Linked DNA regions of Homo sapiens. The main gene of each other region encodes a partner of the protein of the gene in region 4 in a complex. Each region holds a gene or a part of one and is shown on either strand. Other genes may lie near its edges.

Region 1 (7,564 bases), on a different chromosome or scaffold from region 4:
ATAAAATGTCAAATGAGATCCCCAAACCCCGAGATAAACCTGAAATTAGAAAAATCAAATCCATATTTTAAATGTTAACCTTTTTTATCATGAGCAACTTGTCTTATTATAAAAGTAAGCAAAACTATATCACACAGAGGCAAAATAAAAAGGACTACATTTATACCATATTTATTTAAGATCTACTATTATCAAGAATTGTACTAGGCTCCACTGACATCAAGCACACAAGGAGTGTGTCATCTACCTGTGGAGAGACATACCAACAAAATAATTGGAGCTAACTAAATAAAAGCTGCTTGCTGACTAAACGTCATACTAACACTGATTCTTCCTCAAATTTAATCCAACTTCAAAACAAGAAAAACTGCAAGAGACAAAAAGTACTGCCATCGCAGACACAGGCACAATCTCAGACAGCATTTGAAAATTCCACTAATACCTTTGTGATTAGAAGAACCTCTTGGTTTTCCAAAATTTACAAAGTAGTAAATAGGATCAAATCTGACTATAGCAGGAAAGCCCACCCAAAAAAAACCTCTGCAAAGAAGGTCTCCTTAAAGCTTACCCATTTTGTTTGGATAAATCACTCTCAGACAACTAACTAAAAATAAATGTAGTTTCAAACCTCAATGGTAATTGTGTATTTTAATACACTAAATATAATCACATGTAATAACATAGTAATAAGCTTAAGTATTTTCAATTTTACCAGTCTTTAATCAATAGCCACAATAAAAATTAAAATAAAAATCTATGGCATAAAAATTGGTAAGTTACTAAATAAAATTCTAACAGTATCTAAATAAGTATCTCTGAAGTAATTATATACACTATCTGCCACTACAAGAAAAGGTATTTATGGCCTTTACTATGCTATTAAAAATAACTCGGTCCTGTTGAAGGTTACAGAATCATTAAAAAAAAAAAAAAAAGCAACTGCTTATAGATGGAAAATACTGGAATGTTTAAGGAACCCAGAATGAAAAAAATACAATCGAAGTCTCCAACAAGCTGTTGTTTTGCTGCTGTTTCACCCGTATTTGGTTCAATAATCACCTATTCAAATGACTATTATATCATCTACACATATTTTCAATAGTTTCCTTTTATCCATTAATTTTATCCAAAAAGGCTTCCAAGTAACTAATTGAAGTATATTACTGTAAGTATGCAAATCATCAAAGCTCATAAATATTCAGTCAAAAAGAAGCTGGCATATCTACAGCCATAACACCAAAATAAAATACCACACTTAACTCTATGGCACATACTCAACTTATTTTGAATTTAGTCCCAACAAAAAAGCAGGACAAGGAAAAAAAGTGTTAAGAAATTTTCTTCACCAATTAAATAATTTACATGACAGGTGAACCAAAAAAGCAGCTTGCTGAAAGTATTAATGTACTTAAAGAAGCAACAGGGTGATTGGGGAACAGATGGGGCTCCAAGATGTATAAATTCTTATCCCACTGGTACTTTAATTGTGTTAGTTATTTCAGAGCTATGTGTCTATATATTCTTTTATCAATATTCTTCCTTAAAATGCAGCTTTTCTTGGGAATTATAAATGCTCATCATTTTGGACAGCAAAAACATTACCTAATATATAACTTTATAATGACTCTCCTCCATGCCTTCAGGTTCTATTCTTGTTCCACAAAGTAGAATTTAATTATAAGGAATATATTTATTTTCAATGAAAATATTAGTAAACTGATATAGAGGCAGTTAAGGTGGGTTTCATTTATTTCACAAAACTCCAAATTTCTGTCCATGCAACTGTATTTTCAAATGATTTAATTACACATACTATCAGAAATGTACTTCATCAAAATACTTTCTTAGACCTTTAATGTGTAAAAATCACTTAAGAATACGGCAAATCCAAAAACATCACATCAAAAGTAAATTAAAAATTATTATAGGTAATGCTAGAAATACAGCTTTAACTGTATTTCTCAATGTCTTTCGGAAATTTCTATCCAAACATACCAGTTAGACATGTTGGACTCCAAACTCATTCCACTACCACCATAGTAACTGCAGCTGCCTCCCCTACCCCAACCAAAAGATAACAGCAACATTTACAGCTAGATTCCATATTTGAAAAGCATAAATCATTTTCAGTCCCACAAACTTAATCAGGTCCTATAGTACTGAGAATACTGTTTTTTTTCTAATTTATTTATTGTTTTAAAACAAGGTCTCGCTCTGTTGCCCAGGCTGGAGTGCAATGGCGTGATCCCAGCTTACTGCAGCCTCAACTCCTGGGCTCAAGCAATCTTCCCACCTCAACCTCCAAAGTAGCTGGGACTACAGGCATGTGCCATCATGTCTGGCTAATTTTTTAAAATTTTTTTGTAGAGACAGGATCTCACTTTGTTGCCCCAGCTGGTCTCAAACTCCTGTGAGCGAGCAATCCTCCCGCCTTGACCTCCCAAAGTGCTGGGATTACAGGCATGAGCCACCAAGCCCAGCCTCTTTTTTATTCTTAAATGTATTTTCTTTTCACCCTCGCCATCCTCAGCGAAAAAAATAGTATTTTCTGTCTGCAGTCTCTCTTCCTTCCAACTCATCATCAATAATACTCTCATCAGTTTTCTTTCTCAAACATATCATATCCCCTTCCCTTAAAAATTGTGAATGATCTCTGCTGACTAGAATTCAAAATCTTCATGTTTTGCAAGACTTTACCAATCTGGCCCAATCCTATGTTTCCAGTCATTTCCCTATGTCTAGCCCAGAACACTACCTAGTTTCCCAAACATGCTATCCGTCTAGTACCATTCTTTGTTGTTGCTGCTTTCTAAGCCTAGAATGCTTTTTCTCTACTCTTCCTGGCAATCTTGGAATGAAATCTTACTCACATTTCCAAAGGCCTAAATTTAAAATCTCCTCTGCAAAGACTTCAATTCCTCTAGATCAGGGATTAACAAATCTTTCCTGTAAAAGGCCAATAGTAAATATTTTAGGCTTTGTAGAGGGCCATAAAGTCTCTAACTACTCACTCTGCCATAGTAGCACAAAAGCTGCATAAAAGAAGGGGTGTGGTGGTGTACAAGCAGCAGCTGAATTTGGTCCAAAGGCTATAGTTGCTGACTTCTGTCCTAGACAAAATTACAATTTACCACATAGTACTATAGCCTGTTGTCACCTATATTTACATTGTAAACTCCCTGAAAGAAGAACCTTTTAGTAACTTTTAATTAAGTCTTCTTCCCAACCCCAGTACAGTACCTAATACCAAAAAATTCAGTGTTAAATAAGCAAAATGAAGACAATAATACAGTATTACAATCTCAATCAGCAATAATAAGTAGTACATGTCAAAAATAGTGTACAAACGTTTGACTTATGTTAGTCTTAAAGACACTAATTCCTAAAATATCTATGTTACTCACTAGCCTCAGGCTGTCTTGACTCTAAACTTAAATTAAATATATTTTAAAGCTTTTTTCCAGTACTAGGAAGAGTCTATAATAGTTAACTGCCAAACTTCATCCAGATATATCTGTGGAACAGTGTCCTTGGGTAGTTCATAAAACTAGGACTCAAATGTTATGATTTAGAATCATCTGTCCCAAAGTATAAAACATATTAATCTGTGGTCAGTGATTAGTTAAAAATAATCAACAAAAGGGGTAATACATAGTTCCTGAATGATTCCCAAACAGTAATACATTTTTATTTGACACCTGGTACTCTCCATAGGTAGCCTTAAGATAGCTAAGATACATGTTGACCCTGTCAAAAGGTTAATCTTTTAGTGTCAAAGCTGAAGTTTAGCCACATCTATTTATTCTAGAAGGAACCCAGTATTTCTGCTCTGTTAATAACATAGAACAGATGGGGTGTCAGGAAAAAGTGGAGGTGGCATGGGATTCTGGTCCCAACTGCCAATAAAAATCACAATTTTTGGCCGGGCGCGGTGGCTCACGCCTGTAATCCCAGCACTTTGGGAGGCCGAGGCGGGCGGATCACGAGGTCAGGAGATCGAGACCATCCCGGCTAAAACGGTGAAACCCCGTCTCTACTAAAAATACAAAAAATTAGCCGGGCGTAGTGGCGGGCGCCTGTAGTCCCAGCTACTTGGGAGGCTGAGGCAGGAGAATGGCGTGAACCCGGGAGGCGGAGCTTGCAGTGAGCCGAGATCCCGCCACTGCACTCCAGCCTGGGCGACAGAGCGAGACTCTGTCTCAAAAGAAAAAAAAAAAAAAAAAAAAAAAAATCACAATTTTTAAATTGTGTTCATTTAAGGTGAAATAACATATTTTGTAAAATTATTAGTGATGATACAGTGCTTACAATAGCCTTTATGAAAAAAGTCAATAAAAAATATACACAAAGTCTATTTTATGTCCCAGTGATGCATATATGATTATTTCGAGCCCCTGAAACAAAGACAATTTTTTAAAGTAATAATAATAGCAAATGCTTAGTAGCACTTACAACATGCTAGGCCCTTTTCTAGGTACTTCACATATCATTAACTTAATCCTTAGAAGAATCTCATGAGAGAATACAATGATCCCCACTTTATAGTTGAAAATGAGGCATGGGGTATTAAAAAGACCAAGTTCCAGAGCTGTAAAGTGGCAAAACCAAGGTATGAACCAAGGGAATCTGGTTCCAAGTGCTAAACCACTATACTGTACTAAACATACCTGGATTATAGCTCCTTCCTAATAGTACCATTTCCACTATATACAAACACCTTGTTTCTACAAATAAACAATCTAAGGTAAAACTAGGAATACTACGATCATAAACTTCAGGAGAGTGTCCATTCTGGGAGAACAAAAGGTGGCTCTCTCCCTTTCCTCAAATAATTAATTCTACAAATTAGAGGAAAAAAGGAAAATGTCCCCAATGGACAAGTTGCCTCTCTAAACAGTCATATATTAGTTCATAAGTTGAGGATCTTCTGTGCTGTGTTTTTTTTCTCTTAGGTTCATCATTTATTTTCCATCTCAACTGCTTATGACTTGAGCTTTTGGATTTAAAAAACTGACTAATGACATGAATCTAAATTTTCTCTGCGTCTACTAATTGCCATTTCTTTTTGCTTCCCCTATTGCTTCTTGATTAATATTTAAAATAAGGGGTTTGTGTATATAGCAGAATTTGTTTCCAAATTTTTAAAATATCTTAAAATACTTATATGATGTGCTTATATCGTGACCCATTGGTTTAGAGAAAAAAAAAAAAAGAAATAAACCTGAATATTTACATATTTTGTAGATAATATTCTAGACAATACATTTAAGTTATAATAGCAACATCCTTGCCTTCCGGACTCTTCTATTTTGAAAAAGCCTGGTCTATATATGCTATAAATAATTCACTAAAATCAACTATAAAAAAATTTAGCCATATTAAGCCTATGACACATTATCTTCAGTTGGTGGTACTAGGATGTTTTCTCCTGCTTCCAGTATGCCCACTGCCTCCTTTACTACTACCCTCTAAACAGATGACTTTATCCACTGAGATCAAGGTCATCCAGAGGATGTAGCCTCTCATAAACTTTGTCAACCTGAAGTCGTGCATTTCATCTACAGCCAAAGATACCAACTACTACCAGTTCCCTCTTCTCCCACTTAGCCAACAAAAATCACATACCAGAAAGGTCTTGGGAAACATTTTCCAAACAGCAGGATATCAAATTTTCTGTTTTATTAAGCAAAAATAATTTTTTGATCACCCTTCAAGTTTTATCACATAATATAAATACAAACAACTTGGAAAAGCATCTTTCTATAAAAAGCTACACAATAGTTCCTTGGTTAGAATCTTCACAACAAAACAAAAGACAAAACTATAAATCTCAGAGCAAAGCCATATTTTTTCTTTGAAAAAAAAACCAACAAAACAAAACTGAGTAAGAGTCACATTATACACCAGTGTTCTATAAGAAAATTCCATAACCTAGAGAATTTAAAATTTAAAAAGTGATATTAATCAGACAATTTCCTAACAGCTGCTGATTACAAAGACTATTAAAATACACACCAACTTCATTAAAATCTTCAAAGGTGATTTTCCCTGTGGCTTCTCTGTCATAATCTTTAAGAATCTTCAGTACATCAGCTTTTTTTACATCAAACCCCAAGGCTCTCATTGCCACCTTTTGGATTAAAAAGGAAAAGCAAATTATAAAGCACTCTTTACAAAAGAATTTCTAATTATTAAGTTTTTACATCTTAAGAGATGACAACACATTAATAAAATATAACTTTTTTGCATGTTTTACCTCTTTAAAATAGCAGTGATAGTGTAATTGTTCTTCACTACTGAAATTAAGTATGCATAAGTTTTTTCATTTATAAATTGCATTTTTTATATGACAAAGTAACCAACAAGTGTTTACAGATTTTACTATATAAAATGCACTAACTTATTGCACAGATAATTTGATTGTTATTTGTTCTGAAGGGATTAACAATCAAAATGAGAAAAAGGCGTGGCATAAATATTAAACAGTTACATGATAGAAGAGATAAAACATTAAAACAAGAATTATCATCAGTCTTTCCATGATTAGTTACCAGGTAAATGATAGGGCTAAGGACCCTGAGTTTAGAGAAAAAAGAGATTTTGTTACTAATAATAAGGAAGGAGACATATTACTGACTAGAGAAGTCTTATTTGGAAAGATTCAAACTGTTCCTTGAAGGATAGATGAAGAGGAGCAGTAGGGTATTTGGGAAGGATGACTGGTATTAAAAGAAACACTGAAACGAATAGGTTCGAAGGACAATGAACAGAGCAGTTTACCTCACCTGAATTAGAAAAGTTCAGGTGAGGTAAACTGCTCACCTGAATTAGGAGGTGAATTCCACCTTAATTAGAAGAGTTCAGGAGGAAGAAAGCAGTTAGCAAATGAAAAAAGTAGTTGGTGGCAAAAGTGTAGAGAACATTCAGTAGAAAGCAAAGGAATCTGAACTTTAAGTAGTATACAATGAGGAGTTATGGTTTATGAGCAATGAACAATTTATGAGCAATGGTGAAAGAATTTTTAAACTATCTAAATTCAGTGGTAGTGTACAAGGTGAACTAGTAAGAAATCATTTAGGAAGCTCCAGGTATGAAATAAGGTCCCAAACCAAGATAGTCAATGGTTACAAATGGAACAGACATTATAAAGGAAGATCAAATCTGGGTAACCAAAAAAAAAAAAAAACAAAAAAAACAGTGGGAAAAGAGAGCCAAAGAGGACTGCAAGATTGAGAAAGCTAGACTTAGCAGGCCTATTAACTGCTTTTATACATTCTATCCTGTCACTGCATAGTTCCTATCCCTACTTGGAATTCTAATGCTTAAAAATCCCTTACGAAATTACAAAAATTAAAACTACCAAATAAACACTTACATTCACCTATCCATTAAGGCCATTAAAAATCTCAAAATACTATCTTTCCCACTGTGCTGAAAGTAAGTCCCATTCTACCCTAAACCCAAATCTCTCCTTATACCCTGACAAATAATAATTTACAAATCTCTCCCTACACTTTGACATTCTAGGTCTTAAAGCTGACATTTTTACCTATTAGCATGTGTC
Region 2 (7,564 bases), on a different chromosome or scaffold from region 4:
GAGCTAACATGGGATGAACAGGGAGGGTTACCCAACCTGCCATTTTTTATCCAAACTCTGCAGGCAAATCCAGACAGAGTCTCAGCAAGACTGAAAACCAGGGACCAAACCAAACTCTGGGAGCTTCCCACAGACATGTCACATGTGACCAAGGGTTCCTGCACATAGTAGTAGCAAAGGTATGGTGTTCATGGAACTCTAAAGGCAGGAACAAAAACAGCCCTGAAGATCAATCCCTCCGTGACAGGCATTCACTTCTGCCCTAAGTGTGTCAGAAAGATCCCATTTTGTTTCCTAACTCAGGCCAACCCTCCTTTGCCTCCAAAATTCAGTGTTAACTAACCAATTACTTAAGAGACGGATCCCTCTTCCTTCTGTGGATAGTTCATCTGTTAAGGATCCATTATCACCTGTCTCACTCCTCCTAAGGAGTCCTAGTATAAAAGGGCCAGGGTAGGAGTAGGGAAGCTGGTTGGCATGGAGGGTCACAAGATCCAGAATGGCTAGGGATGGAAAAAGAATACCCTGGTTCTTTGGGGGATTCTGCCAAAGGAGCTTTATTGACCATTTTTTTAAAGGAAAAACACTGAATGATCTTGAGGATGGTAAACTGTCTCCTCTTCTGGGTTCCAGAAGCCCTTATGCTACGTTCAGTATTAAGAAAAGCCCTGAACAAGTGGAGGATGCTGCTTCTGGCAGCAGGGAGGGAGGGTAGATGCCACAGCCAACCCAGAGAATGGCAAACAGTGCCAATCCAAACAAGGCAGGGAACCTCTGTGTGGTGTGAATGGGCATGTGACTGTGATGCAAAGTGCCTGGGGCTCACAGGCTCCCAACAGCCAGTTCTCGCAGATAGGACTGGGTAAGGCTGCGCAGTTCGTCCATGGCATAGTCCTCAGGCATGGGAAGCCGGCCAATGTGGGGAGCCAAGAGGCGCAAAGGGACTCGCTGAGGGTCTGGTGTTGAGTCGGAGGTTCTATCAGGAGGATGATGCAGACTCAGCACCACGCGCAGCAGGTTGGCTACACGTTTGGCCATGTCTAGAGAGAAAAACTAGAGTCAAGCACTGAGCATGGGGTCTGGAGAAGGGTGGTAGGCACTGAGGGTGGGGTGTAATAATCATAAAAACAGGAAGCAAGAAGGCAGAAAGAGTGAGGAGGTTAGAGGCTTACCTGACTGAGCCAGGCGATCTTTAGCACTGTAACACTGAATCTGCTCTATCCGACTGCACAGTGAAGTCACTTTGATGTGTAACTGCTCCAGGTCATTACCTGAGCAATCCACCTACAAAGAAGCAGAGAAGCCAATTAATCCAAGGGGAGTTCCTATCACTCCAATCCCACCTATAGACTCTACACAAAACCTTGAAACAACAGTGAGGTGAGGGAGGGGAAAATCCAAGATGATGACACAGGGCCAAGCCACCACCATCTAGTGGAGGACAAGGCACTAATTATGCAGTAATAGCCAAGAGGAAGGTAACACAGTTACCTAGCCTTGGACTAGGAAAAGTCTTGAGATCCCGAACTATACAGCAAGCTTTAATAACACAGCACCAAAAATCAAGATAAATTGGGTTCAGAGAGATGGTATGACTTCTAAAGAGCACACAAGGAAGTAAAAAATGCAGCCAGAACCAACATTTAATTTAGGTCCCCTGACTCCAAGTTTATAGCCTTTTCTAAAACACCAAAAAAGCTGTGTGCAGGGGGCAGGAGGATCAAGAGCAAGACAGGTTATTTGCTCTCATGAAACTGATAGAAAATAAATAAGAAAACACAAAACAGTAATAAATCCTGAAAAATCACAAGCCATGTAGATAATTTAAACAGGTGGATGTGGCAGAGAGAAACTGGATAGCTACTTGAGACTGGAGGACCAAGAGAGGCTTCTTTAAGGAGGTCATATTTAAATTGAGACCTGAATAACAAGGAGAGAGCTCAGCTTTCCAGGCAAAGAGAAGACAGCTAAAACCCCCAAAGGTGGGAATTCAAAGGAGATTTACATGGTGACATGTAGGGTAAGGAGAAGAAGCAGAACAAGATAATACTAGAGAGTTTTTATGTAACATAGGTTTTTTTTTTTTTTTTTTGGGAGAAGGGGGGTCTCGTTATGTTGCTCAGGCTGGTCTCAAGCAATCCTCCTGCCTCAGCCTCCCAAAGTACTAGGATTACAGTCATGCACCACCACATCCAGCTATGTGCTGGCACATTGATAGTACCCTTTGCTTAATCCCTATACTTATCAAGCTATAGTAATTGCTGCTTTACTTGTATGTATCTCCCCCACAAAATCATTATTTTGGTAAGGGCAGAACACATACTGTTTACCTTTATATTCCCCAAACCCACTACAGTGCTTGGCATACAGTGAGTTCTCCATAATAGGTTGTGTGAATGAATTACTCAATATTCAATGAGAAAGTGGTTTCTTCAAGTGATTATTTAGAAATGATGTTCTTGATTCATACTAAAAGTACAGCAAACATTGAATTATGTCTATTATGTGCCAGGCACTGTACTAGGAGTTGGAACTTTGATGAGGATAATAATAGATAACAATTATTAAGCATTTAGTAGAGGCCGAGGTCAGGAGTTTGAGACCAGCCTGGCCAACATGGTGAAACCCCGTCTCTACTAAAATACACACACACACACACAAAGCTGGGTGTGGTGGCACACGCCTGTAATCCCAGCTACTGGGGAGGCTGAGGCAGGAGAATTGTTTGAAGCTGGGAGATGCAGTGAGCTGAGATTGTGCCACTGCCCTCCAGCCTGGGTGACAGAGTAAAACTCTGCCTAAAAAAAAAAAAAAAAAGGCATTTAGTACATGAAAGGTACTATGTAAAACACTTCATGTAGATTTTGTTTAATCTTTGTGAAAATCTGTCAATATGAACTATAATCTGTACTACTGTCTACCCCACCCACCTTTTTCTTTCAGACGAGAGAGGTAGTTAACTTGCTCAAGATTACATAGCCAGTGAATTTGGAAGCCACAAATTGAATCTATAAGTCTGCTTCCAGAACTTGAGCTGTTAACCTCTACACTCTATTGCCTGTAACCGTAAAAGACCTTCCCAAAAGGGGCTTATAGCAACCTGAAAATATGAATAAGTAACTACAATATGGTCTGACAGGTGCACTAGTAGAATAATGTACTAAGTATCTTGGTAGTAAGAAAGTGCAATTAATTATCTCTGGGGAAAAGCAGAGAGAAGTAGGGGTAACAGCAACCTAGATCTTAAAAGGATGAGTTTAAGTGTGCTAGGTAGTGTGGAACATAATATGGTTTGTTAGAAACACCAGAAGTAATTTAGTGTGAGTACAGCAGGCTAGCAAGGCTGGAACGTGGAATAAGAGTGGTAGGAGTAAGGCAGGAAAGGTAAAAGCCTCTAAAAGGACTTGAATCCTATATTTATTATAATGAGTTTGGTTTTTGCACCATAAGCAAGCAGTGGAGACTCATTTTACGACTACAAAGACTGACCTTAAGGCTGCGTGCAGGCGTGCGGTAAGCTCATGCCTGTAATCCCAGCAATTTGGGAGGCCAAGGTGGGCCGATCACTTGAGGCCAGGAATTCAAGACCAGCCTGGCCAATGTGGTGAAACACTATCTCTACTAAAAATACAAAAGTTAGCTGCGTGTGGTGGCACACACCCTATACTCCCAGCTACTTGGGAGGCTGGGGCATGAGACTCACTTAAGACTGGGAGGCAGAGGTTGCAGTGAGCCACGATCACACCACTGCACTCCAGCCTGGATGACAGAGCAAGACTCTGTTCCAAAAAAAAAAAAAAAAAAAAAACTGACCGAAGACATTGACTTTAAAACCCATATTTGCAATTTTAAAACATGCCAAATGATGTGTAAAACAGCTATCCTCACCCTCACCAAATCTCCATTCTTATTTTATCTCTCATCTTTGGGCTTCTCACTCAAACTAGGACTGAACAAGGGGAAGAGACTGTCTATGGACAAGCCTCAGGAATGTCTATTGCACATACTAGTTGGTAATCAACATAAAATAGCATTTTTAAGTTTCGATATAGCTGTCAGAAACGGTTATATCAAATGAGCCTCAGCAAGATGCCTGCTTTGACAGTGCTATCTCTGTCAGTGCATTCTCAAGTGTATACTAAGGCCTTGTGAGGTATCTGAAGATTTAAGGGCCTGAGAAAAGGAAAATCAGGCAGCAGTTTCAGGATCTCAGGTACCTGCTGTATATGGCGGAGCATTTCAATGACTCTAATATAGTCCAGGTAAACAAGCCCAGATGTTTCCCAATCCTGAATTAGGCTGCTGCGCTCTGGAGGTGCCAGGTCTTCCAAGAACCCCTTCAGGTAGTCATAGTTCTCATTAATGATGGCATCTGAAGAAACAAAGTATTGAGCACAATGTCTGCACAAGTGCATAGTTTCCAAAAGTACAGAAGACATGGCAGGAAGACAGAAAGGAAGGAGAAATAATGTTGGCTGGACTTCAGAAGTAAAAGCACATACAGGCATACCTCAAAGATACTGTGGGTTTCATTTCAGACCACCACAATAAAGCAGGTATCACAATAAAATCACAAATTTTTTGGTTTTCCAGTGGATATAAAAGTTATGTTTACACTATACCACTGTCACTTATTAAGTGTGCAACAGCATTATGTCTAAAAAACCAATATACATACCTTAATTTAAAAATATTTTATTGCTAAAAATGTTAATCACTTGAGCCTTCAGCAAGTCATCTTTCTGGTGGTGGAGGGTCTTTCCTTGATGCTGATGGCTGCTGACTGATCAGGGTGTTGCCTGCTGAAGGTTGTGATGGCTATGCTAATTTCTTAAAATAAGATAACTGAAGTCAGTTCTCTCAAACCCAGCTGCTGCTTTATCAACTAAGCTTAAGTAATATTCCATATCCTTTGCTGGCATTTCAACAATGTTCACAGCATCTTCACCAGGAGTAGATTCCATCTCAAGAAACTGCTTTCTTTGCTTGTCTATAAAGCAAACTCCTCATGAGTGACACCAGTTCAGTCACATCTTCAGGCTCCATTTCTAATTCTAGTTATCTTGCTGTTTCCATCACATCTGCAAGTACTTCCCCCACTAAAGTCTTGAACCCTTCAAACTCATCCATGAGGGCTGGATTCAATGCCTTCCATACTCCTGTTATTTAATGTTGATATTTTGACCTCCTTCCATGAATCACAAATGTTTTTTGTGTATTTTTTTGTTGGGGTCTCACTCTCTCACTCAGGCTGGAGCACAGTGGCACGATCTTGGCTCACTGCAACCTCTGCCTCGCAGGCTCAAGTGATCCTCCCTCCAACCTCAGCCTCCCGAATAGCTGCGACCACAGGTGTGTGCCACCAGGCCCGACTAATTTTTTTGTACTTTTGGTACAGATGGGGTTTCACCATGTTGCCCAACCTAATCTCGAACTACTGAGCTCAAGAGATCCACTCATCTTGGCCCCCCAAAGTGCTGGGATTACAGGTGTAAGCCACCATGCCCGGACCCAAATGTTCTTTTTTGTTTTTCTTTTCTTTAAGACAGGATCTCCCTCTGTCACCCAGGCTGGAGTGCAGTGGTGTGATCATGGCTCACTGCAGCCTCAACCTCCTGGGCTCATGCAGTACTCCTGCCTCAGCCTCCTGAGTAGCTGAAATTACAGGAACATAACACCATGCCTGGCCAATCACAAATGTTCCTCTCCCACCATCCGCCCCAGACAGGGTCTCACGGTGTTGCCCAGGAAGGAGTTCACTGGCATGGTCGTGGCTCACTACAGCCTCAACCTCCCTAGGCTCAGGTGATCCGCCAATCTCAGCCTCCCAAATAGCTGGGAATATAGGCACGCACCACCATGCTCAGCTAATTTTTGTATTTTTTGTAGAGATTGGGTTTCACCATGTTGCCCAGGCTGGTCTCGAACTCCTGGGGCTCAAGCAATCTGCCGCTTTGGCCTCCCAAAGTACTGGGATTACAGGTACGAGCCACCGTGCCTGGCCTACAAATACATCTACAATGGTGAATCCTTTCCAGAAGGTTTTCATTTACTTTCCCAGATCCATCAGAGGAATCGCTATCTATATGGCAGCTATAGTCTTATGAAATGTATTTCTTAAATAATAAGGCTTGAAAGCTGAATTACTCCTTTGCCCATGGGTTGCAGAGTAGATGTGTTAGCAGGCATAAAAACATTAACCTCCTTATACGTCTTCATCAGAACTCTTGGCTGACTAGGTGCATCATCAATGAGCAGTAATATTTTGAAAGAAATTTTTTTTTTTTCTGAGCAGGTTTCAACAGTGGGCTTAAAGTATTCAGTAAACTGAGCTATAAACAGATATGCTGTCATCCAGGCTTTGTTTTTCCGTTTACAGAGCACAGGCAGAGTAGATTCAGCATAATTCTTAAGGGCCCTAGGATTTTTAGAATGGTAAATGAGCTTCTGCTTACCATCACCAGCTGAATTAGCCCTAAAGGGAGAGTTAACTTGTCCTTTGCAGCTTTGAAGCCAGGCATTGACTTCTCTTCTCTAGCTATGAAAGTCCTTGGTGGCATCTTCTTTCAATAGAAGGCAGTTTCATCTACACTGAAAATCTGTTGTTTAGTGTAACCATCTTCATCAATGATCTTAGCTAGATCTTCTGGGTAACTTGCTGTACCTTCTCCATCAGCACTTCCTGCTTCACCTTGCACTTTAATGGAATGGAAAGACAGCTTCTTTCCTTAAACTTCATGAAGCAACTTCTGCTAGCTTCAAACGTTTCTTCTGTAGCTTCCTCACCTCTCTCAGCCTTCACAGAACTGAAGGGAGGTTAGGCTTTTGCTTAAGGGAATGTTGTGGCTGGTTTCATCTATCCAGATCACAAAAACTTTCTCCGCATCAGCCAGAAAGCTGTTTCACTTTCATATCATTTATATGTTCACTGGAGTAGCACTTTAAATTTCCTTCAAGAACTTTCCTTTAACACAACTTGGCTGTTTGGCAAAGAGGCTTATCTTTTGTCCTATCTTGGCTTTCAACATGCTTCTCTCTGTACACCTAATCACTTCAAGCTTTTGTTTAAAGTTAGAGTTGTGCTACCCTTCCTTTCACTTGAACATATTTAGAGGCCATTGTAGGGTTATTAACTGGCCTAATTTCGTGATTATTGGGTCTTAGGAAATAGGAAGGCCCAAAGAGAGGGAAAGAGATGGGGATGACCAGTTGATGGAGCAGCCAGAATATGCACATTTATCAACTGACCATCTTATATGGATGCAGTTGGTGGCACCCCAAAACAAAACAGCAACATCAAAGATTGCTACTCACAGATCACCATAACAGATATAGTAATGAAAAAGTCTGAAATAATGTGAGAACCACCAAAATGTGAAACAGAGACAGACATGAAGTAAACATATGTTGGAAAAATGGTGCTAATATACTTGCTCTGTGCAGTTTTCCAAACCTTTAATTTGTAAAAAATGTAGTACCTGCAAAGTACAACAAAATGAGGTATGCCTGTATTCTGAAATTCTCCAATGGAAAATGTGAAGAATTTCTAGTTTCAGGCCTTAAG
Region 3 (7,564 bases), on a different chromosome or scaffold from region 4:
CCACTGTTCCCCTAAGACACCTCCCTTAAACACTATGAAAATTAGGTTAATGCTGTTTATGAAAACTAAAAATACTGAAGTTTGACTAACGACGGAGTGAAATTAGCTTACCTGACTACCACAGATGTTTTCATACTCTTCCACAAGATCAAAAACTGTACTCGAAGAGTGCTTCAGAAAAGACTGCAGGAAATCAGAAAACATACTCATGGATGCTAGAACACATCAAAAAAAAAAAAAGGAATAAAGAAAAGTTAAGTGACGTACTTCTAGGTAATTCCGTTTGTTTGAAAATGTATTTATTTGTTTATTTATTTTTTGAGATGGAGTTTCACTCTTGTTGTCCAGGGTGGAGTGCAATGGCACGGTCTCAGCTCACTGCAACCTCCACCTCCCAGGTTCAAGTGATCCTCCTGCCTCACCCTCCCAACTAGCTGGGATTACAGGCATGTACCACCATGCCCAGCTAATTTTTGTATTTTTAGTAGAGATGGGGTTTCACCATATTGGCCAGGCTGGTCTCAAACTCCTGACCTCAGGTGATCTGCTCGCCTCAGCCTCCCAAAGTGCTGGCATTACAGGCGTGAGCCACCGCACCCAGCCTGTTTGAAAATTTAAATGGCTACAAGTCTTTTATAAATTCACTGCTATATTAAAAAAAAAAAAATTGAGACAGAGTCTCACTCTGTCACCCAGGCTGGAGTGCAGTGGCGCAATCTCAGCTCACTGCAACCTCCACCTCCCAGGTTCAAGCGGTGCTCCTGCCTCAGCCTCTCAAGTAGCTGGGACTACAGGTGCGTGCCACCATGCCCAGCCAACTTGTTGTATTTTTAGTAGAGACGAGGTTTCACTGTGTTAGCCAGGATGGTCTTGATTTCCTGACCTCATGATCCGCCCACCTTGGCCTCCCAAAGTGTTGGGATTATAAGCGTGAGCCACCGCACCCAGCCTCAAAATTTTTTTTAATTGGCAAGATACACATAATATAAAATTTATCTTAATCATTTTTCTTTTTTTTTTTTTTAAGAGAGGGGGATCTTGCTCTGTCACCTAGGCTGGAGTACAGTGGTGCAATCATGGCTCACTATAGCCTCAAACTCCTAGGTTCAAGTGATCCTCCCACCTCAGCCTCCCCAGTAGCTGGGACTATAGGTATATACCAGCCACCATGCCCAGCTAATTTTTTATTAGTCTGTAGAGACAGGGTCTTGCTAACTCCTGTCTCAGCATCCCAAAGTGGTAGGATTAAAGGCATGAGCCACTATCCCTGGCTTAATCATTTTTAAGTGTATAGTTCAGTGTCAGTAAGTACATTCACATTGTTGTGCTACCATCACCACTATGTATCCACAGAACTATTTCATCTTGTAATACTGAAACTCTGTACTTAATAAACATTAACTCCCCACTCTCCACTTACCCCAGCCCCTGACAACTATCCATCTACTTTCTGTCCCTACATGTGTTGACTATTCTAAATATCTCATGTAAGTGGAACCATAGAGTATTGCCCTTTTGTGACTGGTTTATTTCACTTAGCATAATGTTCTCAAGGTTCATCCATGTTGTAGCATGTGTCAGAATGTCCTTCATATTTGGCTGAATAATATTCCACTGTATGTATAGATCACATTTTGTTTCCCCCATTCATCTATCAACAGGTACTTGGCTTGCTTCTACCTTTTGGCTACTATGAATCATGCTATGAACATGCATGTACAAATATTTCTTTGAGACTCTGCTTTCCAATCTTTTGGATATATACCCAGAGGCAGGTTTGCTGGATCATATGGTAATTCTATTTTTAATTTTTTGAGGAACTGCCATACTGTTTTCCATAGCAGCTGTACTATTTTACATTCCAACCAATAGTGCACAAGGATTTGAATTTCTCCACATTGTTGTCAATACTTGTTATTTTCTGGGTTTTTGTTCTTGTTGTTGGTTTGTTTGTTTTTCAGTAGCCACACTAACGGGTGTAAGGCAGTATCTTGTAACTCACTGTAGTTCTGATTTGGATTTTCCTAATGATTAGTGACATTTGAGTATATTTTCATGTGCTTACTGGTCATTTGTGAATCTTCTTTAGAACAGTGTCTATTCTATTTCTTTCTTTCTCTCTTTCTTTTTTGAGATGAAGTTTCGCTCTTGTTGCCCAGGATGGAGGTGCAATGGCATGATCTCAGCTCACCGCAACCTCTGCCTCCCGGGCTCAAGCGAGTCTCCTGCCTCAGTCTCCCGAGTAGCTGCGATTACAGGCATTCGCCACCATGCCCAGCTAATTTTGTATTTTTAGTAGGGAGAGGGTTTCTCCACATTGGTCAGGCTGGTCTCGAACTCCCAACCTCAGGTGATCCACCCGCGTCAGCCTCCCAAATTGCTGGGATTACAGGCATCAGCCACTGCGTCCAGCCTCTGTCTATTCTATTTCTTTGCTCATTTTTAAATTGGGTTGTTTTTTTGTTGTTGAGTTGTAGCAGTTTTTATACATTTTGGATATTAACCCCTAAGCAGATATATGATTTGCAAATATTTTCTCTCATTCTGTGGGTTGCCTTTTCACTTTGCTGATTGTATTCTTTCGTGCACAAAAGTTTAAAATTTTGATGTAGCCCAATTTATCTATTTTTTCTTTTGATACCTAAAGGTCTTTTAAGATCTCAAAGATATACTAGTTATTTTATAAACAATTACTTAAGAAATTGAGCCAGATTTAAAAATATCTGAATTATATTTTAAGCACACCATTACAAAGTAGTGGAGAAAGTTATAATACATACTAAATGGCATGTTCCACTCTGGGAAAATACAGGCACTTGGCCTAAGTAGAAAGTATTTTGAGTCACTTAATACGAGTACCTGTTTTTGACAGATACTACAAGAAAGTAGTAGTTACCAAAGTGTTAAGAGCAGGGCTCTGGAGCTAAACTGCTTAGTTTCAAATCCTGGTACCACTACTTCCTAGCCAGGTGGTTTGAGGTAAGTTACTTAACCACTTTGAGCAGTAGTTTCCTTTTCTCTAAAATGGGAATAATTATTGTAACTATTTAATGGACCACCATAAGGATTACATGAGTTAATGCTTGTACAGTGGTCATAACACTATCTGAAAAAAAATAACAGCATTACGGTCCAGGAGAAAACAAAACACATCAACAATGTTAGATTAAGAACTAAACCTAAAGAAAGAGATGCTCTTTCAACAGCACAAATAAGAAAAAAATTACAATATGAGACTTGTCTAATAACGTAACAGGCTGCTATTTACATTAAAAGATAAAATGGCAAGATGCTGCTCAGACTGAGAACCAAGGTGAGGTTCTCAACCTTCTAGTGATACTGTATCAAATACCATTGCCATAACCACAACTAATTAGCTTAAGGAAAAATATATTATAGACAGAAGACCAGATGAAGACACAGGAGGAAGACAGCCATCTGTAAGCCAAGAGAAGAGGCTTCAGAGAAAACCAACCCTGCCAAGACCTTTAACTCAGACATCTAGGCTCCAGAATTGTGAGAAAATAAATTTATGTTGTTGCCTATAATCCCAGCACTTTGAGAGGCTGAGGCGGTAGGATCACTTGTGTCCAGGAGTTTGAGACCAGCCTGGGCTGGTCTTTGTAGACCCTGTCTCTATAAAGAAATAAAAAATTAGGCTGGGCACAGTGGCTTACGCCTGTAATCTCAGGACTTTGGGAGGCTGAGGAGGACGGATCACTTGAGGTCAGGAGTTCGAGATCAGCCTGGCCAAAATGGTGAAACCTCTCTCTACTAAAAATACAAAAATTAGCCAGGCGTGGTGGTGGGCACCTGTAATCTCAGCTACTCAGGAGACTGAGGCAGGAGAATCACTTGAATACAGCAGGTAGAGGTTGCAGTGAGCCGAGATTGCACCACTGCACTCCAGTCTGGGCAACAGAGTGAGACTCCGTCTAAAAAAAAAAATAAATAAATAAATAAATAAATAAAAAATTAGCTGGCGGCCAGGCGCAGTGGCTCACACCTGTAATCCCAGCACTTTGGGAGGCCAAGGCGGGTGGATCACCCATGGTCAGGAGTTTGAGACAAGCCTGGCCAACATGGCAAAACCCCGTTTCTACTAAAAATACAAAAATTAGCCGGGTGTGGTAGCAGACGCCTATAATCCCAGCTACTCTGGAGACTGAGGCAGGAGAATCATTTAAACCTGGGAGGCGGAGGTTGCAGTGAACCAAGATCCCATCACTCCACTCCAGTCTGGGTGACAGAGCGAGACTCCATCTCAAAAAAAAAAAAAAAAAATTAGCTAGGCATGGTGGTACATGCCTGCAGTCCCAACTATTCAGGAGGCTGAGGCTGCAGAATTGCTTAAGCCTGGGAGGTTAAGGCTGCAGTGAGCCATGATTGTGCCACTGCATTTCTGCATTTAGCCTGGGTGACAGAGTGACTGTTTTTTTTTTTGTTTTTTTTTTTTAGACGGAGTCTTGCTCTGTAGCCCAGGCTGGAGTGCAATGGTGCGATCTCAGCTCACTGCAAACTCTGCCTCCCGGGTTCAAGCGATTCTCCTGCCTCAGCCTCTCAAGTAGCTGGGATTACAGGTGTGCACCACCATACCCAACTAATTTTTGTATTTTTAGTAGAGACGAGGTTTCACCATGTTGGCCAGGCTGGTCTTGAACTCCTGACCTCGTGATCTGCCCGCCTCGGCCTCTCAAAGTGCTAGGATTATAGGCATGAGCCACCGCGCCCGGCAACAGAGTGAGACTCTTGTCTCAAAAAACACACACACAAAAATCTGTTGTTTAAGCTACTCTCTCAAGAAAAAAAGACAGAAAGAAAGAAAAGAAAAACATAATGACGTTCAGAAACAGGAAGAAATGGTTTCCTTCATCTTGCTAAAGTGAAAAGCTACTTGTCACAAAGCTCAATGCCATTTTACCAGCTTCTCCAGGATCATCCTCACGTAACATAACAGCACTGATAGTTACATCTTCTGTTATACTGTGGGGCTCTGTGTTTGTGAACAGCCCGGAACGCTGTGATGAAAATGCAGCTGCCCAGTTACTGTCATCCAGATTAGTAACCTTAAAAAAAAACAAAAAAGTAAAAATACAGAAAAGTGATGGAGTTATTGTCACTGAGTGGATACTTTAAAAACAAATAAGGTTTCTAAAAATTATATGTATGTATGCGTCTTTTTTTTTTTTTTTCCCTTCTTGAGATAAGGTCTGGATCTGTTGCCCAGGCTGGAGTTCAGTGGCACGATCATGGCTCAACGCAACCTTTGCCTCTCAGGCTCAAGCCATCTTCCCACTTCAGCCTCCCAAGTAGCTGGGACTACAGGCACGTGCCACCACGCCTGGCTAATTTTTGTATTTTTGGTAGGTATGGGGTTTCACCATGTTGGCCAGGCTGGTCTCAAATTCCTGGCCTCATGTGATCCACCTGCCTCAGCCTCCCAAAATGCTGGGATTACAGATGTGAGCCACCATGCCCGGCTACTATAGTGTATTTTTAATACTTAGGTGAAGTCATTCTGCATCACAGCTTACATAACATTTCTTTTGCTATTTTTAATACTGTTCCATAGTGATTCCTAAAGAGTATCTCACCTACTTTTTCCAATTTTCTCTTTTATCCCCTTTAATACATTTTATCTCTTCCTTAAGATATTCTTCATCTGTTAACCTCTGATTCCTACTCTTGTATGCTTCAAAACAGGGATCAGATTTTATAGCCATCAGCAACCAACCACAGCATGTACTTCTTCTGGTCAGCAAACTGACAGATTAAAACATCTTATTTTCATCTAAAGGTTGCTGGTGTCACAGTTTCCATCTGTGATATCAGATGCATAAGGTTTTCAGTTTTTTTACTGTCTAATTATTTCAATCCATATAACCTAAAGTTACTGTTATGATGATTCTGACTCAATATTTGTTAAAAGACTTTTACATCAAATATCATATTTTTATAAAAAGGGAGAAGTTCTTTTTTCTCTTTTTTTTTTCTTTTGCAATCACAGGTCACTGCAACCTCTGCCTCCTGGGTTCAAGCAATTCTCACACCTCAGCCTCCCGAGCAGCTAGGATTACAGGCATAAGCCACCACTCCCAGCTAATTTTTTTATTGTTAGTAGAGACAGGGTTTTATCATGCTAAGCAGGCTAGTCTCAAACTCCTGACTTCTGGGAGGCCAAGGCGGGAGAATCACTTGAGGTCAGGAGTTCAGGGAGTGCTGAGATTACAGATGTGAGCCACCACACTCGACCCAAAAGGAGTTCTTAGCCCTATTTTTCTACATACCATGGAGAGATTTCCAAAGAACCCTGAAGACTGCGTAAGTCGGGGCGACTTCCCTCCTGTTCCAAGAATGCAGGAAATATCTGGCTGCCTTAGTAAGCTTCGGCTTGTTGGGGTAACTATAAACAAAAGGTTGGTAGAAAGAACCTAAAGTGCGTGAGCATTCATTATCAAAACAAAGTAAGCAAACAAACAATGAAGAATAAATTTTTCAGTTTTCCATTATTTAGACTCTAACCAAATAAATACTTTAAATGTTAACATTTCCATGATACAAGGATTTAACTTATTTTTCTAAATTTGAGCTGTAGGTACTACTGAGCCTAACAGGAAACATTTTACTGCAATTACAGATGCTTTCATTATAGAATAACTGAGCAGTTAAAGACACTAATCAGTCAACGGATTCTTCATATTTTAATTTTATAAGGCATACTGAGGCAGTGCAGTGTAGTGGGCATAAACTTTGGAGTAAACAGATCATTGTTTGAATCCCAGTTCCATTATTTACATACTCTTTTTTTTCTGTCTCAGAACAAAAAAAGAGTATGTAAATAATGGAACTGGGATTTTTTTTTTTTTTGCTCTGTCGCCCCAGCTGGAGTACAGTGGCACAATCTCAGCTCACTGCAACCTCTGCCTTCCGGGTTCAAGCAATTCTCCTGCCTCACCCTCCGGAGTAGCTGGGATTACAGGCATGTGCCACCACGCCAGCTAATTTTTGTATTTTTAGTAGAGATAGGGTTTTGCCATGTTGGCCAAGCTAGTCTTGAACTCCTGGCCTTAAGTGATCCACCCACCTTGGCCTCCCAAAGTGTTGAGATTATAGGCATGGGCCACTGCATCCAGCCTATTTACATACTTATTGTATATATTAGTTAACTTCTCTAAGTCTCACTTTCAGTTTTGGTAAAACAGGGCCAACAATACCCATGTCATAGTTACCGTGTGTTTATGGAAAGTACAGTACCTTGTACATGGCAAGAGTTCAAACGAATAATAACTGCAATCATTATTATTAGTGCTTATTGATATCGTAACCAAATACTATACTAATTATGTTACAATAAATGTTAGTTGCTATTATAATTACCGTTATTATTAAATGCTTTAAAAGCAAAAAATCTTACAAGGCTGTCGAAATGAGCTAGGAGTTCGAGGGATAACCTGGTTTCTTGGTGTAGTATTACCAAAATTTTCATCTTGAGATGCCTGAACTGTACAACGAGTTAAGAAAAGTTTTCCATGTAGAAAAGAGATCACTAAAATGAGAATTAACC
Region 4 (7,564 bases):
CTAAGTGGAGATGTTGACTAGGCACTTGGATATACAAAGCTGGAATTCAGACAAGGAAGTTTGGGCTAGAGAGGAAAAGTTGGGAGTTATCAGTATGTATATGTTTATATATTTGTGATTTTTTTTTTTTTTTTTTTTTTTTTTTTTGAGATAGAGTTTTGCTCTTGTTGCCCAGGCTGGAGTGCAGTGCCTTGAATACTGAATTAGTGAATATTGAACCATTGCTCCTAGGGGAAATACAGGGTTAGGTTCCTGCAAGCCTCTGGTCATATTTTGTTCAACCAATCAATATATAACCGATCACTTGTTTTATGTGTGTATCTGTTTGGAGACAACTTACTTGACATAATATTGTTGAATCATTAACAGTGAAGTCAGCCAGGCGCAGTGGCTCACGCCTGTAATCCCAGCACTTTGGGAGGCCGAGGCGGGCGGATCATGAAGTCAGGAGATCAAGACCATCCTGGCTAACACAGTGAAACCCCGTCTCTACTAAAAATACAAAAAATTAGCCAGGCATGGTGGCAGGCGCCTGTAGTCCCAGCTACTCGGGAGGCTGAGGCAGGAGAATGGCGTGAACCTGGGAAGTGGAGCTTGCAGTGAGCCGAGATCGCGCCACTGCACTCCAGCCTGGGCGACAGCAAGACTCTGTCTCAAAAAAAAAAAAAAAAAAAAAACTCAGGGCCAACAGCACTATAATTCGTGTCTGAATGAAGCTTATCTAACACCTCCCATAGTTCTTGCACTTAGCAACACTAGAAAGCACTTCAGTACTACACGTGGGGACCCAAGAAAATGTACAAAAATGAAAAAAATGTGGCACTAACTGCATCACGAGAAAGCCTTGTTTAGTGTGTGTCAAGCAACTCAATATTCTTGCCACTCTTAATTTTGATTTGAAAGTACCACAAATACTGATTTGGGGGTTACAGATAAATTTTAGTGAGTAGGCAGATTCACAGATAAAGACTGAACAGTGAAGACTATTTGCATTGAGTGTATATTTTATGTTATGTTATGTTATTTTTGAGATGGAGTCTCACTCTGTCACCCAGGCTGGGGTGCAGTGGCGTGATCTTGGCTCACTGCAACCTCTGCCTCCCGGGTTCAAATGATTCTTGTTCCTCAGCCTCCCGAGTAGCTGGGACTACAGGCATGCACCATCACGCCCGGCTAATTTTTGTATTTTTAGTAGAAACAGGGTTTCACCATGTTGACCAGGCTGGTCTTGAACTCCTGACCTCAGGTGATCCACCCGTCTCGGCCTCCCAAAGTGCTGGAATTACAGACGTGAGCCACCACGCCTGGCCTGAGTGTATTTATTTTACATATTTATATTTGAACTGAAACTTTTATGAACCATTTTATTTAATGCATTCTGATATTTTATATTATTTCATTTTAATTTTTTTCCAAACAAAACTTCTCACATATTTATTATTGAACCAACCTACTATTGTAGAGCTTATAATCAGAGAAAAACCATTTTCTCAACAAAGTATGTCCACCTTTCCAGATAGTGGTGACAGTTTCAGCTTGATGTGATAAGATGATAGTCTTACGTGTAGACTCATCTCATGTGTAATTCCTGGCAGACCCAGCTTGGTTCTTCTCCAGTCCCTCCTCTTGGGGTTGTAGCTAACTGTATTAGCAATTTTGTTTTATTTTGTTTTGTTTTGTTTTTTTGAGATGGAGTCTCACTCTGTCATCCAGGCTGGAGTGCAGTGGCACAATCTCAGCTCACTGCAACCTCCGCCGCCCAGATTCAAGCGATTCTCCTGCCTTAGCCTCCCAAGTAGCTGGGACTACAGGCGCCTGCCACCACGCCTGGCTAATTTTTTGTATTTTTAGTAGAGATGGGGTTTCACCATGTTAACCAGGATGGTCTCGATCTTCTGACTTTGTGATCTGCCCGTCTTGGCCTCCCAAAGTGCTGGGATTACAGCTGTGAGCCACCACGCCCAGCCCTGTATTACCAGTTTTAATCTGAATCCACTGGTGAATGGGACGATTTTGCTTTTGTTTCTTGGCCAGGAATTGCATGATCCTGGACATTTTGTGAGAAGATGGTGGGAGAAATAATCAACAGCACACACCATGATGGTGGAGAAGGGGTGGGGGGAAGCAGGTAGAGGAACATGTTTTTCTGTTTCTTTCATTTTTGAAAAGCTGGGGCTGAGCGTGGTGGCTCACGCCTGTAATCCCAACACTTTGGGAGGCCGAGGCGGGGAATCACTTGAGGTCAGGAGTTCGAGACCAGCCTGGCCAATATGGTGAAACCCCATCTTTACTAAAAACACAAAAATTAGCTGGGCGTGATGGCATGCGCCTGTAATCTCAGCTACTCGGGAGGTTGAGACAGGAGAATCGCTTGAACCCGGGAAGTGGAGGTTGCAGTGAGCCGAGATTATGCCATTGCACTCCAGCCTGGGCAACAAGAGGGGAACTCTGGAAAAAAAAAAAAAAAAGGTGGTCACAGGCTATAATGGACTACAGCTGGCTGTTTGAAAAACATAGTGGAGGTGACAAAGCCATGAGATTGGATGTGATAGATTACTTCTGGAGGGAAAGAGCCATCATTCTTCCCAGGGCAGACTCAGGTGCAGAAAGAAGCCTGTGTGTGAAGAGTTAAAAAGCCAAAGTGTGGGGTGAGGGGACTGGCCTCCTCACGCCTCGGCAGGGCCAGGCCTCCTGCCAATGCTTATGGGCCCGGATCTCCTCCCAGGTGACCATCTTGGTGCTGCAGGGCCGGCTGGATGAGGCCCGACAGATGCTCTCCAAGGAAGCCGATGCCAGCCCCGCCTCTGCAGGCATATGCCGAATCATGGGGGACCTGATGAGGACAATGCCCATTCTTAGTGTACGTGGGGGTAGCTTTGCTCTGCTGGGTCACAGGAGATGCGTGATTCACTAAATATAAAGGGTGTGGATGGGATGACGTCTCATGGCTGGTCTCTCCCTTAGCCCGGGAACACCCAGACACTGACAGAGCTGGAGCTGAAGTGGCAGCACTGGCACGAGGAATGTGAGCGGTACCTCCAGGACAGCACATTCGCCACCAGCCCTCACCTGGAGTCTCTCTTGAAGGTCTGGGAAGCAGTTCAGATTGCATCCATGTTGGCTTCCTATGGGGGCTGTGGCATCCAGTGCAGCAGTGGCAGGAGCTTGGTCCTCCTTGGATAGGGCTGTCTGTCGCTCTGCCGTGATGGCGAGAGCTTTCAGACTAGTTGAAATCCGGTGCCCTTAGCTGAGAGCAGGAGCATTATGGAGAAGGTACCCCTGAGAGGAGGACAGAGTTCAGCACAAATGTCTCTCCTCAGATTATGCTGGGAGACGAAGCTGCCTTGTTAGAGCAGAAGGAACTTCTGAGTAATTGGTATCATTTCCTAGTGACTCGGCTCTTGTACTCCAATCCCACAGTAAAACCCATTGATCTGCACTACTATGCCCAGGTGAGTGAGCTCGGGGTGGGCAAGGGTGGGGGTAGGAGTCCTGGGGGCGCCCTGATGGGTCATTCTCTTTGAATTCCTCCCTGAGGAACAGGAAGACCCTTTCCTTTGGCCCTTAGTGAAAGAACAAGGCACCTTCTCTGGGGTTCGTTATACAGCAGCCCTGCCTGCCCCGAGTCTCTGCTTCCGTCCTCAGGATTGAGTGTCTCATCACCTTTCCACAGTCCAGCCTGGACCTGTTTCTGGGAGGTGAGAGCAGCCCAGAACCCCTGGACAACATCTTGTTGGCAGCCTTTGAGTTTGACATCCATCAAGTAATCAAAGAGTGCAGGTAGGATCTCTCCCACCCCCCACTGTAACCATTTTTAGGTGTACAAATATCACCACCTTGCGTTTCTAGAGTGGCCTGTTCCTTCCTTACCCTTCTTCCCTCAGACCTGCTATCTTAGTCCATCTCACGCTGATATTACAGAATACCTGAGACCAGATAATTTATAAAGAAAAAGATTATTTTCTCACCGTTCTGGAGGCTAGGAAGTCCAGGATCAGGGCACTGGCAATGTTGCTGGTGAGGGCTGCTCTCTGCTTCCAACATGGCACCTTGAACACTGTGTTCTCATGTGGTGGAAGGGCAAGAAGGACAAACTCCCTTCATCAAGTCGCTTTATAAGGGCACCCAATCACATTCATGAGGGAGGATGTGGCCTAATCACCTCCTGGCCTAATCACCTCTTAGAGGCCCTACCTCTTAATACTATCACATTGGCAAAACTGGGGTTTTAGAGGGGATCCCTTCAAACCATAGCATCTGCTCCCCTGCTTGACTTGCCACAGGTAGATAATGGCTTTTCTCTGGGTGAGCTTAGGGACTTCCTGGAGGCTTGAGGGCTACCATATACATAACTGTTTCCATTTCAGGGATGTTCATTTAAAATAACATCGCGGGAAACTACTTTGACATTTAAAATCTAGAAAAAGCCAGCAAGCCTGTTTCTTGGCACCTAATGGACACCTTATGGGATGGCGTGTTCCAAGAGTCTCACTCCAGTGACGTGAGCTACCGAACCACTGGGCTTCAGGCTGGGTATTATTCAGAATTTCCAGCCCTCTATCCAAAAGAGGGTGTTCTATGATTGCACTGAATCTTTAGCAAGGCAGGAAAGGGAGTGCCAAACATAATCAATCAAAGGTAAACCTTTCCAGAACTCTCCATATATGGTAAGTCAGAAAGAAGGTCCCCTTCCTTGTTGTGCACCCTGGATGGTGGGCATTGCACTGAAGACGTGCTGGGAAGGGAGGAAGTGGGTAATGGCAGAAGATGGCCTTGATCAGGTGTCAGATTCACTGACCTCAACTGGCTGTTTGTAGATCTGGGCATGGGAAGAGTTTCCTTCGCCCTACCTGCTTTTCTTGTTTTGGCCAAAAGAATGCCAGGGCTTCAAGAAAATGATACTAGATTTGGGGAATGAAAAACAAGTTTTTTGTGTGTTTGTTTCTGGGTTTTTTTTTTTTTTTTTTTTTTTTTTGAGACAGAGTTTTGCTCTTGTCACCCAGACTGGAGTGCAGTGGCGTGATCTTGGCTCACTGCAACCTCCACCTACTGGGTTCCAGCAATTCTACTGCCTCAGTCTCCCAAGTAGCTGGGATTACAGGTGTCCGTCACCACGCCCAGCAAATTTTTGTGTTTTTCAATAGAGACAGGGTTTCACCATGTTGCCTAGGCAGGCTGGTCTGGAACTCCTGACCTCAGGTCATCTGCCCATCTCGGCCTCCCAAAGTGCTGGGATTACAGGCGTGAGCCACCGCGCCCTGCCAAGTTTTTTTTTTTTGAAACAGGGTCTCACTTTGTCACCCGGGCTGGAGTGCAGTGGAGTGATCTCAGCTCACTGCAGCCTTGACCTCCTGGGTTCAAGTGATCCTCTTGCCTCAGCCTTCCAGGTAGCTAGGACTACAAGTGTGCGCCACCATGCCTGGCTAATTATTATTTTTTTTTTTGGAGAGATGAGGTTTCACTATGTTGCCCAAGCTGTTCTTGAACTTGTGAGCTCAAGCGATCTGCCTGTCTTGGCCTCCCACAGTGCTAGGATTACAGGCGTAAGCCACCATGCCCGGCCTGAAAGTCAAGTTTTGTGTCAATATTTTCACAGGCCTGTAAACATTGTGAGAAGTCCCTGCATGGAAGAATTAGTGAGAATAACTTAAAAACACACAAACACACCATCGTTTGGCTTTGTTGGTGTCTCTGCCCATAGTTGAGTATTCTAAATTTCCTGTGTTATAACAGTGAGTGAGTTTCACCAGGGCTTCCTAATTTATAAGCCCTGTATCTGGATTTTTAGGAATAAAACAGATTTGAGCAGAAGAAGTCTGTTGGATGCAGGGAGTATAAAAGGGGAAAGCATCCTGCTGTTTCCAGTGGCAGAAGAGAAAGAGAAGTACCATGAAGAGGGGTGAACAACATCACTCTCGTGCCGGACACAGACAAGGAATGATTAGGCTTGCAGTCCCCCAGTCTCAGCCTCTCTCCACTCTCACAAGCAGGAAGGGATCTGAGCTCTGTTAGTGGGAAATCTTGGAGTTTGCATTTCTCTGATCACGAGGCTACCTCCTATCCTGTTTTGAAAGAGGAACAGAAAAGCAGAGCTTGTCCCAGGAATTGTGAAATGGGCTGCAATGTCTTCAGAGGCAGTAGCAGTTTTAGGAAGTGTGCCCTCCTGGCTCTGGGGAAAGGTTGAATTGGGGTCTTGTGGGCACTTGTTTTCTCATGGGATGTATCAGTCAGACCCATGCACAGTTCTGGGCGGCAGGGAAGTGTGTCTCTTTCTGGACTTGAGCCAGTGAGCTGTTGGCATGCCTTTTTAAAGGCATTAGAAAAAAGGTTTCTTTCTTTTTTTTCCTTTCCTGTTCACACCACCTTCATATGAACATGGAGAAGGGAGGTTTCTAAGTGGGCCCCTGATTTACTCCTATGTCAATAATCGTGCCAGACCCTAAGGGGCAGAAAAGGCAGCCAGGGGATCCTGACTCAGAGGCTGTAGTTCGTCAGCCCTGCTAAAGGGCCAGGGGTTTGTCTCTCAGTGCCTGGGTGGGCATGCTTGACTGCTAACCCCTTAGCTGAAAGGAGATGGCAGGAGTCCTCCACAGGGTCCCTTCTTCCCTCCTGGCTTACAGCTTCCTCTGAAGACGGGCCAGTTCCTTGCTGTCTGGCAAGAGGAAACAGCTGGGGTGCACTTCACTGGGAGTTGGGCAAGATGTCGGCAGTTTCCTGGTGCCCTTCAAGTCCTCCAAAAGTATCGAGCTAAAAGGTGACAAGTCTTCCTTCAATAACCAAGAAGAGTTCCAGCTTAATGTCTGCTGAATCTAGAATCTTCTGACTTGTATTTTGGCCCAGCCCACAATCTTGGATGCAGGGTGCAGCAGTGTTTACAAACCTCACACCCCATTTCCAGAATAGCAGGTAGAGGCACTGGAGCTTTGATTACTCCAGAGCCCCCAACAAGCAAGATGGGGCCTGGGTAAGGAGTTGACAGTGACCTTAGTACAGGACAAACAGCTCATTTGGGGCTACAGTTGCTTAGAGGGGTCACCTTCACCGTAGCTGGTCTTCCCAACTCCGCAGCGTTCTCTCGTTTTCAGCAGAGGGCTACTTTGGAGCTGATAATTAGGCCTTTCTTGCCTTGAATGTTAAGGATGCCCACCTGCTCTGTGTCTCGGCTGCTCACTCAGAATCCTTCAGAGTGAGAGAGAGACAGAGTGAGAGTGGGAGTGTGTGCGTGTGTGATCTAAGACCTAACTGTGTGGTTCAGGCCTGCTGGGCCCTGTAGAGAGACCGTGGTGGCTTTGTGCAGCACTATGTCTGGTCTCCGTCACTTGAGTTGTGTTGTTAGTTCTCTGCTCTCAGTGCTTGCTGCCTTCCAGCCTTGGAGGCTGCTGGATCCTTTGGGAAGACACCGGGCACTGTCTCAGCCCTTCCTTCCAGTTGTTGGTGGCTTTCGTGCAGGCTAAGGCTTTGGCTCCCTTAGCCTGGGTCCCCTATAGCCTTTTCACTGGCTTCTCCAATGGTTTCGACATAACCATCAGCTAGAAATCTGGGTAGCAACAGCTGTTTTGGGAAG

Evidence for each region.
Region 1: NUP85 (region 4) and CETN3 share a complex: the UniProt entries of both Homo sapiens proteins name them as parts of the nuclear pore complex.
Region 2: NUP85 (region 4) and NUP98 share a complex: the UniProt entries of both Homo sapiens proteins name them as parts of the nuclear pore complex.
Region 3: NUP85 (region 4) and NUP107 share a complex: the UniProt entries of both Homo sapiens proteins name them as parts of the nuclear pore complex.

Annotation. Positions count from the first base shown.
Region 1 is NC_000005.10:90,399,670-90,407,233, forward strand, and holds part of CETN3 (centrin-3), read right to left. Parts: intron 6,131-7,564; coding exon 6,016-6,130; intron 1-6,015. UniProt on the Homo sapiens protein: Plays a fundamental role in microtubule-organizing center structure and function. As a component of the TREX-2 complex, involved in the export of mRNAs to the cytoplasm through the nuclear pores.
Region 2 is NC_000011.10:3,675,337-3,682,900, forward strand, and holds part of NUP98 (nuclear pore complex protein Nup98-Nup96 isoform 1 precursor), read right to left. Parts: intron 4,373-7,564; coding exon 4,218-4,372; intron 1,285-4,217; coding exon 1,173-1,284; intron 1,041-1,172; coding exon 823-1,040; 3' UTR 1-822. UniProt on the Homo sapiens protein: Plays a role in the nuclear pore complex (NPC) assembly and/or maintenance. NUP98 and NUP96 are involved in the bidirectional transport across the NPC. May anchor NUP153 and TPR to the NPC.
Region 3 is NC_000012.12:68,689,470-68,697,033, reverse strand, and holds part of NUP107 (nuclear pore complex protein Nup107), read right to left. Parts: intron 7,502-7,564; coding exon 7,415-7,501; intron 6,432-7,414; coding exon of another isoform or gene 6,404-6,431; coding exon 6,288-6,403; intron 5,067-6,287; coding exon 4,922-5,066; intron 216-4,921; coding exon 112-215; intron 1-111. UniProt on the Homo sapiens protein: Plays a role in the nuclear pore complex (NPC) assembly and/or maintenance. Required for the assembly of peripheral proteins into the NPC. May anchor NUP62 to the NPC. Involved in nephrogenesis.
Region 4 is NC_000017.11:75,222,378-75,229,941, forward strand, and holds part of NUP85 (nuclear pore complex protein Nup85), read left to right. Parts: intron 1-2,725; coding exon 2,726-2,860; intron 2,861-2,964; coding exon 2,965-3,087; intron 3,088-3,320; coding exon 3,321-3,452; intron 3,453-3,645; coding exon of another isoform or gene 3,646-3,673; coding exon 3,674-3,780; exon of another isoform or gene 3,781-3,781; intron 3,782-4,367; exon of another isoform or gene 4,368-5,788; coding exon of another isoform or gene 5,789-5,903; exon of another isoform or gene 5,904-6,754; intron 6,755-7,564. UniProt on the Homo sapiens protein: Essential component of the nuclear pore complex (NPC) that seems to be required for NPC assembly and maintenance. As part of the NPC Nup107-160 subcomplex plays a role in RNA export and in tethering NUP96/Nup98 and NUP153 to the nucleus.